Linked DNA regions of Homo sapiens: region 1 is reported to be linked to region 2. Evidence: microRNA targets listed by miRTarBase, many of them from high-throughput screens and not tested one by one. Region 2 holds a microRNA gene; the other region holds the end of a gene's coding sequence.
The links. Region 2 holds the annotated microRNA hsa-miR-3135a (UGCCUAGGCUGAGACUGCAGUG, at 2,503-2,524, shown strand). A microRNA usually pairs through its seed, bases 2 to 8, with sites in the 3' UTR of a target mRNA and lowers its output. Matches are read on the target gene's strand: a 7mer-m8 pairs with bases 2 to 8, a 7mer-A1 pairs with bases 2 to 7 and ends in A, and an 8mer does both.

Region 1: miRTarBase lists GTF2B as a target of hsa-miR-3135a. The part of its 3' UTR that is shown has no 7-base or 8-base seed match.

What each region holds. Positions count from the first base shown.
Region 1 is chr1:88,849,122-88,853,523 of GRCh38, forward strand. GTF2B (general transcription factor IIB) reads right to left here. Exons shown (of 7, transcript NM_001514.6): 7 at 3,512-4,225. The coding sequence ends at 4,092. Among named protein-coding and RNA genes, the nearest start is that of GTF2B, 40 kb to the right of the region's middle.
Region 2 is chr3:20,135,072-20,139,474 of GRCh38, forward strand. It overlaps MIR3135A (microRNA 3135a), which reads left to right and starts at 2,494; the gene lies at 2,494-2,570. It overlaps KAT2B (lysine acetyltransferase 2B), which reads left to right. Exons shown (of 18, transcript NM_003884.5): 12 at 1,871-1,981.

The DNA.
Region 1 (4,402 bases), not on the chromosome of region 2:
AACTGAATGGAATTCTATTTGAAGGGTACAACTAAAGTTGGTCCTCAGGCAACCTCCTGTGAGGTGAGCTTCAATGGTATGGTTCAGTGGAAAGAACACCAGATTGAGTGACTGAAACCTCAGTCCGTCTCATCTCTGCTGCTACTAAGAGAACTTGCGCAGATCTTCTCACTTCTCTACACTGCTCTGATATACCAAATGGGGAGATTGGACCACAGCACTGAAGCTAAGATTTCATGAAACGTATAATCAAATCCTTGAACTCTCAGAGTAATAGCAGAGGTTATCAATGAAAGTGGCTTCCAGTGAATGTTTCAAATACCCAAATGGAAGGAACCAAATTCATGAATACTTCAACTGTTTAAAAATGCTAACATGTGGCTAACATGAGCAAGGTGGCTCAAGTCTGTAATCCCAGCACTTTGGGAGGCCAAGGCGGGCGCATCACCTGAGGTCAGGAGTTCGAGACCAGCCCGACCAACATGGTGAAACCCCGTCTCTACCAAAAATACAAAAATTAGCTGGCTGTGGTGGCATGCACCTGTAATCCCAGCTACTCAGGAGGCTGAGGCAGGAGAATGGCTTGAACCTCGGAGGCGGAGGTTGCAGTAAGCCGAGATCGTGCTACTGCCTCCAGCCTGGCTGACAAGAGACTCCGTCTCAAAAAAAAAAAAATGCTAACATGCACAAAGTGGATCCACGTTATCTTCATAGAAACTATGTTGCATAGCTCAGTAATATTACTTACTTGTAAAATGTAGGCCCCAGAAGAAGCTGGCTTCAAGATCTAAGTATGCTCATCTCTCAATAAGGTGGGTGTTCACTTTTATATAGGATTTTTCGCAACTCAAGAGATCAGTCACGTTGAATCACTAATTTACAATGTATTGTTTTCAAAGTATGTCAAATTCTTTTCACTCTAAGTAGGGCCTGGCCATAATTTTCAAAATGTCTACGTATTAGTAATTTTGCCACAATAAGTAAGATTTAGTTGTGAATGAACACTCCACATCTTCAGTGAATTTTAGTAGAAAATCATCCAACTAAAACCTCCATAAAGATGGAACAGTCTTCAAAGAAATAGACAAATAAGGACTAGGGCCTGCTCAGGTGAAGAACGCTTGAGGGGCCTGAGCCCCAAACAGAATTGCTGCGGAGCCCTGCGCTTCTTTGCTGAAAGCGAAAATATTCCAGTAGTCAGATTTAATGACTTCCCAAAAGGGTTATTAACAACGGATCCAATTCCAACCACTTCTACCCCTTTTGAGAACACTCAAGCATGTGAAGCCAGGGATGGAAGGAAAAAACAGGTCACAGTGCTACTAGTTACCCTTCGAATAGACATTTTTCTTTATTTCAGTATCTGGAATTAAGCTGATTTAACCATACGGGTGGCTTACGGAGGATTTATAACTAGCATTTTAATTCCTTTAGTTTCAAGAAATGCCTACAATGCAAGCCTCATTCTCAAAACAAACAAAAAAACAATCCAAACATACCCTCTGACTCCAGATTAATCTTCAAAATCAATTCTCCTGATCCAAACTTTACAAATGTATAGACAGCAAAAAAACAAAACAAAACAAAACAAAAAAGACCATGTTGTTGACACAAGTAGTAAGGGCTAGATTTTTCTTTTCCCTTTATCTGAATTTTTCTAGCTACCTAATAAATGCATCTTTTTAACCAGAAAATCGAACAGACTAAACAAGTCATATTAAATCTTAATCAGTTATGCTGAAAAAAATGTGGGCCAGGCACGGTAGCTCATGCCTGTAATTCCAGTGTTTTGGGAGGCTTAAGTGGGAGGATTACTTGAGGCCAGGAGTTTCAGACCAGCCTGAGCAACATACTGAGACATGTCTCTACAAAAAAAGAAAAAATTAGCTGGGTATGGTGTCCTGAACCTGTAGTTTTAGCTACTTGGGAAGCTGAGGAGGATCAGTTCACCCCGAGTTTGAGGTTACAGTGAGGTATGATCATGCCACTGCACTCCAGCTTGGCTGACAAAGTGAGAATCTTTCTCTTAAAATAAGCACAGCAAGAAGCTGAAATGAAAAAAAAAAAAAAAAAAGTACTGGGAGGCTGAGGCAGGAGAATCACTTGAACCCGAGAGGCAGAGGTTGCAGTGAGCCAAGATCCTGTCACTGCACTCCTGCCTGGGCTACAGAGTGAAACCCCGTCTCAAAAAAAAAAAGAAAAGAAAAGAAAAGAAAAAAGCCACCAAAATACTCGTTATTTCCGGGTGACTTATGTATTTTCCTAATTTTCTGTAATCTGTAGGTACTGACCTTTACTAAGTGCAAAAATAACCTTTGATAACTGCAGTGGTCACTGAATGGGGAACTTTGTGGCTAGTCACTAGAACCTGGGGAACACTAGAAAGCACCCCTGCTCCTTAGTCCGTATGTGGAGATGTGTGATGCTAGAGATCAAAGATGCCGTCCAGAAGGGAGATAGACTGAAGCTTCCTTCTTCCTAGGTCTCACGCTGGGTGGGACAGGTTCTCCCTGACTGGATTATTTTTCCGGTGTTCTCCCCTAGCTCTGAGCAATACTGGGTGAGTGTCCTATGTTTTGTTCAAGGGAAAAATACCACTTGTCTTCATGGTGCCAATACTTATCCCTGCTCCATGGTCAGCAGAATGGCAGTGGAGGTCTGCTCTTGGGAAAGTCCCTCTATGAACCAGTCTGACCCTGCCCACCAGGCCACAACAGGAGATTGTCTTTCTAGTCTAGTGCTAACCTCTTTTCAGATGTTTCAGAACTGTGACACCTGTTTCCAGAGCAGTGAACAGTGGTGATGTCTAGTATGAATTCAAGTCCCCTGTAAAAACTACCTGATCAAAGAGCAAAATGTTGCTGGTCTTCTCTTATAGTGAGTAGAAGTCAAATGACCCTAAATCATTGTTCCTTAAAGAGTCATAGGCAAAACATCTAACACATCACAATCACGTAAAGGATGCTAGTTAAAAACAACTACTGGACAATCCCAGGCCCAGTAATCTTCATTTAAAGTGCTCTTTAGGCCAGATGGGGGCTCACGCCTCTAATCCCAGCACTGTGGGAGGCCAAGGCAGGTGGATCACTTGAGGTCAGGAGTTCTAAACCAGCCTGGCCAACATGGCGAAACCCTGTCTCTACTAAAAATACAAAAAAAATTAGCTGGGCCTAGTAGTGGGCACCTGTAATCCTAGCTACTCAGGAGGCTGAGGCAGGAGAATCGCTTGAACCCTGGAGGTGGGGCAGAGGTTGCAGTGAGCTGAGATTGTGCCACTGGACTCCAGCCTAGGCAACAGAGCAAGACTCTGTATCAAAAAATAATAGATAATAAATAAATGAAATGCTCTTTAGTCTATGAGTACACCAGTAAGCCTAACAAAGAAGAAAAAAGAACCAGGGATATGCAGATTCTATAACATAAGATTTTAACACCCAAAAATTAAAATCTGTTGTTCTACTGCTGCTTTTATCAGCATCATATTCTCTGCTCAATAAGCTCACTAAGAAAATCACATACTTAGAACATTTTAATGTCTCTCAAGCTGGTGCCTTTCAAGGCCCAAGCTCATCACTTCTTGTTTAATAATATACATAATAAATCTCACATACACATCCTTTCAAACTGGAAACTATGATGTTGATGTTAACAATGGTTCTCAAAAGCTTTTGCTCTTTCCATAAATTTATTAAAATAAAAAACTATGTATATATAAGTAATGGAAATAAAGTCTATCAGCTTTATTAGCTGCAATGATTTGCATTATTTGTAATTATGTATCATAAGTTACATGTAACATATAACAAAAACTTGAGTTTTGAAAAATGTTTTATTCAAGAATTACATAATTTCAAATATCTTCCAAAATACAGTTTCCTAGATTGCTACAAAAGAAATTTGATAAGAAATTTAAATCATTAAATATGTTTCACTAGTATATACATACAGAATGCCAAGCAATAGTATTCAGCCCTGGAATGCGTACCATGTCTTTTGTTTTTCCTCATGAAAGGCTCAACCCAGCATTTTGTATAGGCTATGTACAACAGGCAAAGTTTTGTATTCAAGAATTTGACGTTAGCTGCCTCAATTTATAGCTGTGGTAGTTTGTCCACTGGGGTGTCAAATTTGAAGTCTGTAGGAAACAGATCTGGGGCTCGAGGATAGATCAGTCTATAGGACTGTCTGATTGTAACATCAGCAACACCAGCAATATCTCCAATTTCTAAAAGACAAAAATCGAAACATTAACCATCATTTCCATCCTACCTCCTTTCCACTACCTGCATTGTAATTTGTGAGATATGATAGTATAAAGTGCCAAACTTAAAAACAAAACCAGAAGTGATTTCTAAAAACTGATAATAGAAATACATACTAAAAGGTAGAAAGCGGGAGCTAG
Region 2 (4,403 bases):
TTTATATGTTTATCTTCCCCATTTTACTATCGTCTCCTCAAGGAGAGAAATAGTTCATTTGTGTTTTTATCCAAGTTTTATTCAAACTCTCAGTGTTCAGTATTGTGATATGTTTGGGAAAAGTTAAAAGCTAAAATGTCTTTGGGTGACATCAATGGAAGAATAATTTGCAGAAGAGGGAGATGATGATACTGTTCTGTTTACTAGACATACCGTCCCCTTATTATTATGCTTGGTCCTAGGATCCATGCTTTAGAAAGGCATTGTTATATTAGAAAAAACTCCGAAAAAAGTGATTAGTGGCCGGGCGCGGTGGCTCACGCCTGTAATCCCAGCACTTTGGGAGGCCGAGACGGGCAGATCACAAGGTCAGGAGATCGAGACTATCCTGGCTAACACAGTGAAACCCCGTCTCTACTAAAAATACAAAAAATTAGCCAGGTGTGGTGGCGGGCACCTGTAGTCCCAGTTATTCGGGAGGCTGAGGCAGGAGAATGGTATTAACCTGGGAGGCAGAGCTTGCAGTGACCCGAGATCGTGCCACTGCACTCCAGCCTGGGTGACAGAGCAAGACTCCATCTCAAAAAAAAAAAAATAAAAACCAAAGTGATTAGTTTGATAAGGTGTCATTCAGTCATGCCATATGAGGAATGACTATAGCCTTGATGGTGCTTGGCTTGGGACTGGGAAAGTACGGATGGGCATGTGTGAGAGAGCATAATCTTCAAAGGCTTGAAGGGCTGTTAAAAGCAGGAATGAGTCTTTGTAACTCTAGGAGTAGAACTAAGGTCAATAAGTAGAAATAACAATGACCAGATCTTGGGTGAACGTTAGGAAGGAATTCCCAACTATATGATGCCTGAAAATGAATTGGTCTATCTCACCACCAAGGAATTGGCCTACGTTGGCGGTGTTCTAGCAGATTGCCTTTTCATGATAGATGGCAAAAGACCTCTAGCCTCATATGGATTAGGGGGTTAGATAGAATGACTTCCAAAGATCCTTCTGACCTTGAGGTACTGTGATTCCATGAGATCATACCTGGGAATATATTTGAGTTCTTTAGAAAAATGTGCCACCAAATTGCAGAAAATTTATGTGAAGATATTTGGGTCTGGACACTTGGATTTACTTTTATCTCTCTTTATGAGGTTCCAAAACAATCACATTAGATTTACACGTTTTCTGTAAGCTTTGTCACTGAAAAAACTTGATATTATAAAAATATTTCAATGACTGAGTTTATTCAACATTGTTGACTACCTTTAGTTACTTTCTAATGTCTTCTGGCTGATTCAGAGATTCTGGGCTTCTCAGACCTTACTTGGAAAGGTCTGATAAGACCAAATTTAAAATGCTATGTATGTGATGATTCAGTTCTTTAGAAGGGTTGCCAGTTTGTGGTGTACAGTAAACACTTGGATTACTAAATATTCTAGTGAAGATTAGCACTTTTCATTTGCATCTTTTTTTTTTCTTCTGAGATTCTCAAATACCTTAAAGATAAGCAGAAATTCATAATCTACATTCATTCTGAAAACTTTTATATTACTATTCAGCAAGTGATCTTTAAGATTGAGCTAGGAACTTGTGGCCCTGGTGTGTTATTTTCAAATAACTAGAAACTTACATTTTCAAATGATGATTTTTATCTTTGAAGCAAGGATTTTGATTTTGTTTTGGTTTTATAGCTTATTTTCAAAGTTAAGAAACGCAAGAAAGGGTGTTAATATATTTCATTCAGGAAAGGTCCTGGTTGGTAAAATATGTAAAAGTACAAACTTCTGAATTCACCATCATTTCCTGATGGATTTGTAAAAATTTTTCTCCCCAGTCTAATGTATTTGTTTGTATACTAACTTCCACACAGGGCTATGGAACACACCTGATGAATCATTTGAAAGAATATCACATAAAGCATGACATCCTGAACTTCCTCACATATGCAGATGAATATGCAATTGGATACTTTAAGAAACAGGTTGGTTTCTCACCACGCAACACTGTTTTGTCACTCCTTTTCTTAATATGTTCTCAGGTAGCGTTCTTCCAAATAAGTTTCTCCCCCAGTGTTTTCTACTTATAAGAACAGGCATTTGTTTTACAAGCCTTATGTCAAAAATAAGCTTCAGCCTGGATTAGAGAGTGTCACTAGCACATAGTAAGTATTGAATAACTATTTGTTGAGAGAATGAATGAATGTCACCTGTCAGTGAGGTATAATATTGCATCCTAACATTCTAAAATATGGTTTCTAATAAGAAATTCCCAGTCCTGGAATTTGGTGGGTAGCATTCTCTGTGAATGAGAAAAACAGATTCAGTTTCTGGAAGGCCTCCATTTATGACAGCAGAAAGGAAATCCTGGAGTTTATAAAAACCTGCAAACAGTCCTGATTCTACAGCACATAGTGGGCTAGGAGCTTGGCTGTCATCTTTGCAGTTCCTTCCTTTCTCCGTTCCTCCCTTCCTTTTTTTTTTTTGAGACAGGGTCTCACTTTGGTGCCTAGGCTGAGACTGCAGTGGTGCAATCTCAGTTCACTGCAGCCTTGACCTCCTGGGCTCAGGTGATTCTCCCACCTCAGCCTCCCAAGTAGCTGTGACTACACCCAGCTAATTTTTTGTATTTTTAGTAGAGACAGGGTTTTGTCGTGTTACCCAGGCTGGTCTCGAGCTCCTGGACTCAAGCAATCCACCCACCTCGGCCTCCCTAAGTGCTGGGATTATAGGCGTGAGCCACCTCACCAGGCCTCTGTCCTAGCAGTTTCTTATCAGAAGTTTTCAGCTCAGGCCAGGTGCAGTGGCTTATGCCTGTAATCCTAGTACTTTGGGAGGCCAGGGCAGGAGGATTGCTGTGCTCAGGAGTTTGAAACAGCCTGGGCAACATAGTGAGAACTTGTCTCTCTTTAAATAAGTCTTAAAATAAGTTTTCAGCTCAGCTTTTTGAGGACTATTCTTTGACTGCATATTATTTTTAATAGTGATTTATAATTCCTAAACATTTTCATTTACTTTTCTGACTATAAAAGTAATGTGTAATCATTGTAGAAAATGTAATAAAGCAAAAGAAGGAAAGAAAAATGGCTTGTAATTCTGTCACCCCAAGAAATTTACTGTTAATGCTTTGATTTTTTTATTTTAAAATTTTTTCTGTTATTTTTCCTCTCAGCTCATACCTATGCTGTTAATGCTTTGACATAAATCTTTTTAGTATTTTTTCTGTGTGTATATAAACATAAAAGTTGGTTCATACTGTGTATATAATAATTTTGGTGGTTTCCTAGGATTTTGTTGTAGAAATAGAAAATATTTAACCAATACATTTTTGACTAGGTGTTTCTTGTAGGTAATGTGCATGTGTATGGGTGTGTGTTTGTGTACATGTTTTGCCCTCATTGATGGTAATTTGCTTAGAATAAATCAAGGTTTTTGTAATGTGTTGCTAAATATTTTAAAAATTTCCATTTTTGTCAGCAGTGTATAAGGGGGTCAGGAAAGGAGTTGGTAACTGAAAAAAAATTTACCACTTTTCCAGATAATAAATTGTGTATGTTTGAATTTATTTATGTGAAGTTTGATTTATTTTTCCATGTTTATCAATTCTTTGTATTTGTTCCTTTTTTGGATTGCTAATTCATTTTCTTTTGTCCCTTTTTCTATAAAAATGTTTAGTTGTACATTGATTTGTGAGAACTATTAGTATATAACTATATTAACCTTGGATAATATTTGTTTCAACATTGCTTATGGCTTTTTCTTTAAATCTTCAGAATGTTAAAGATGTTATTACATAAAATCTATTGACTTGTTTTGGTTTGGATTTTGTTTGTTTGTTTGTTTTGAGACAGGGTCTTACACTGTCACCAAGGCTGGAGTGCTGTGGCATGATCATAGCTCACTGCAGCCTCAACCTCCTGGGCTCAGGCGATCCTCCTGCCTCAGCTACCTGTGTAATTGTGACCTCAGGTGCATGCCACCATGCCCAGCAATTTTTTTTTTTTAATCATTTGTAGAGATGGTGAGGGGTTGGGAGAGAATCTTGCTATGTTGCCTGGGCTGGTCTTGAACTCTTGGACTCAAGTGATCCTCCTGCCTCAGTCTCCCAAAGTGCTGAGATTATAGGCATGAGCCACTGCACCCAGCCAGACTTCTTTTTTTTTAAAAATGTGTTCTTATGTAATTAGAAAGCTTTTTGTGCTCTGAAGACAGATAAATAATCTCCTATTTATTATCTTCTCATTGTTTGAGATGCATTTTAACTTTTATGGTAAAACTCACTGAGAACTTAATTGGATTGTTTCACTGAGGTCTTGAGCATCAGCTTTCCTCAGCTGTAACTGTAGTGCAAAGCATAAGATCTCAGCTATGGTTCTTAAATGACTTGTCTGTAGTCCTCTTTGAGGA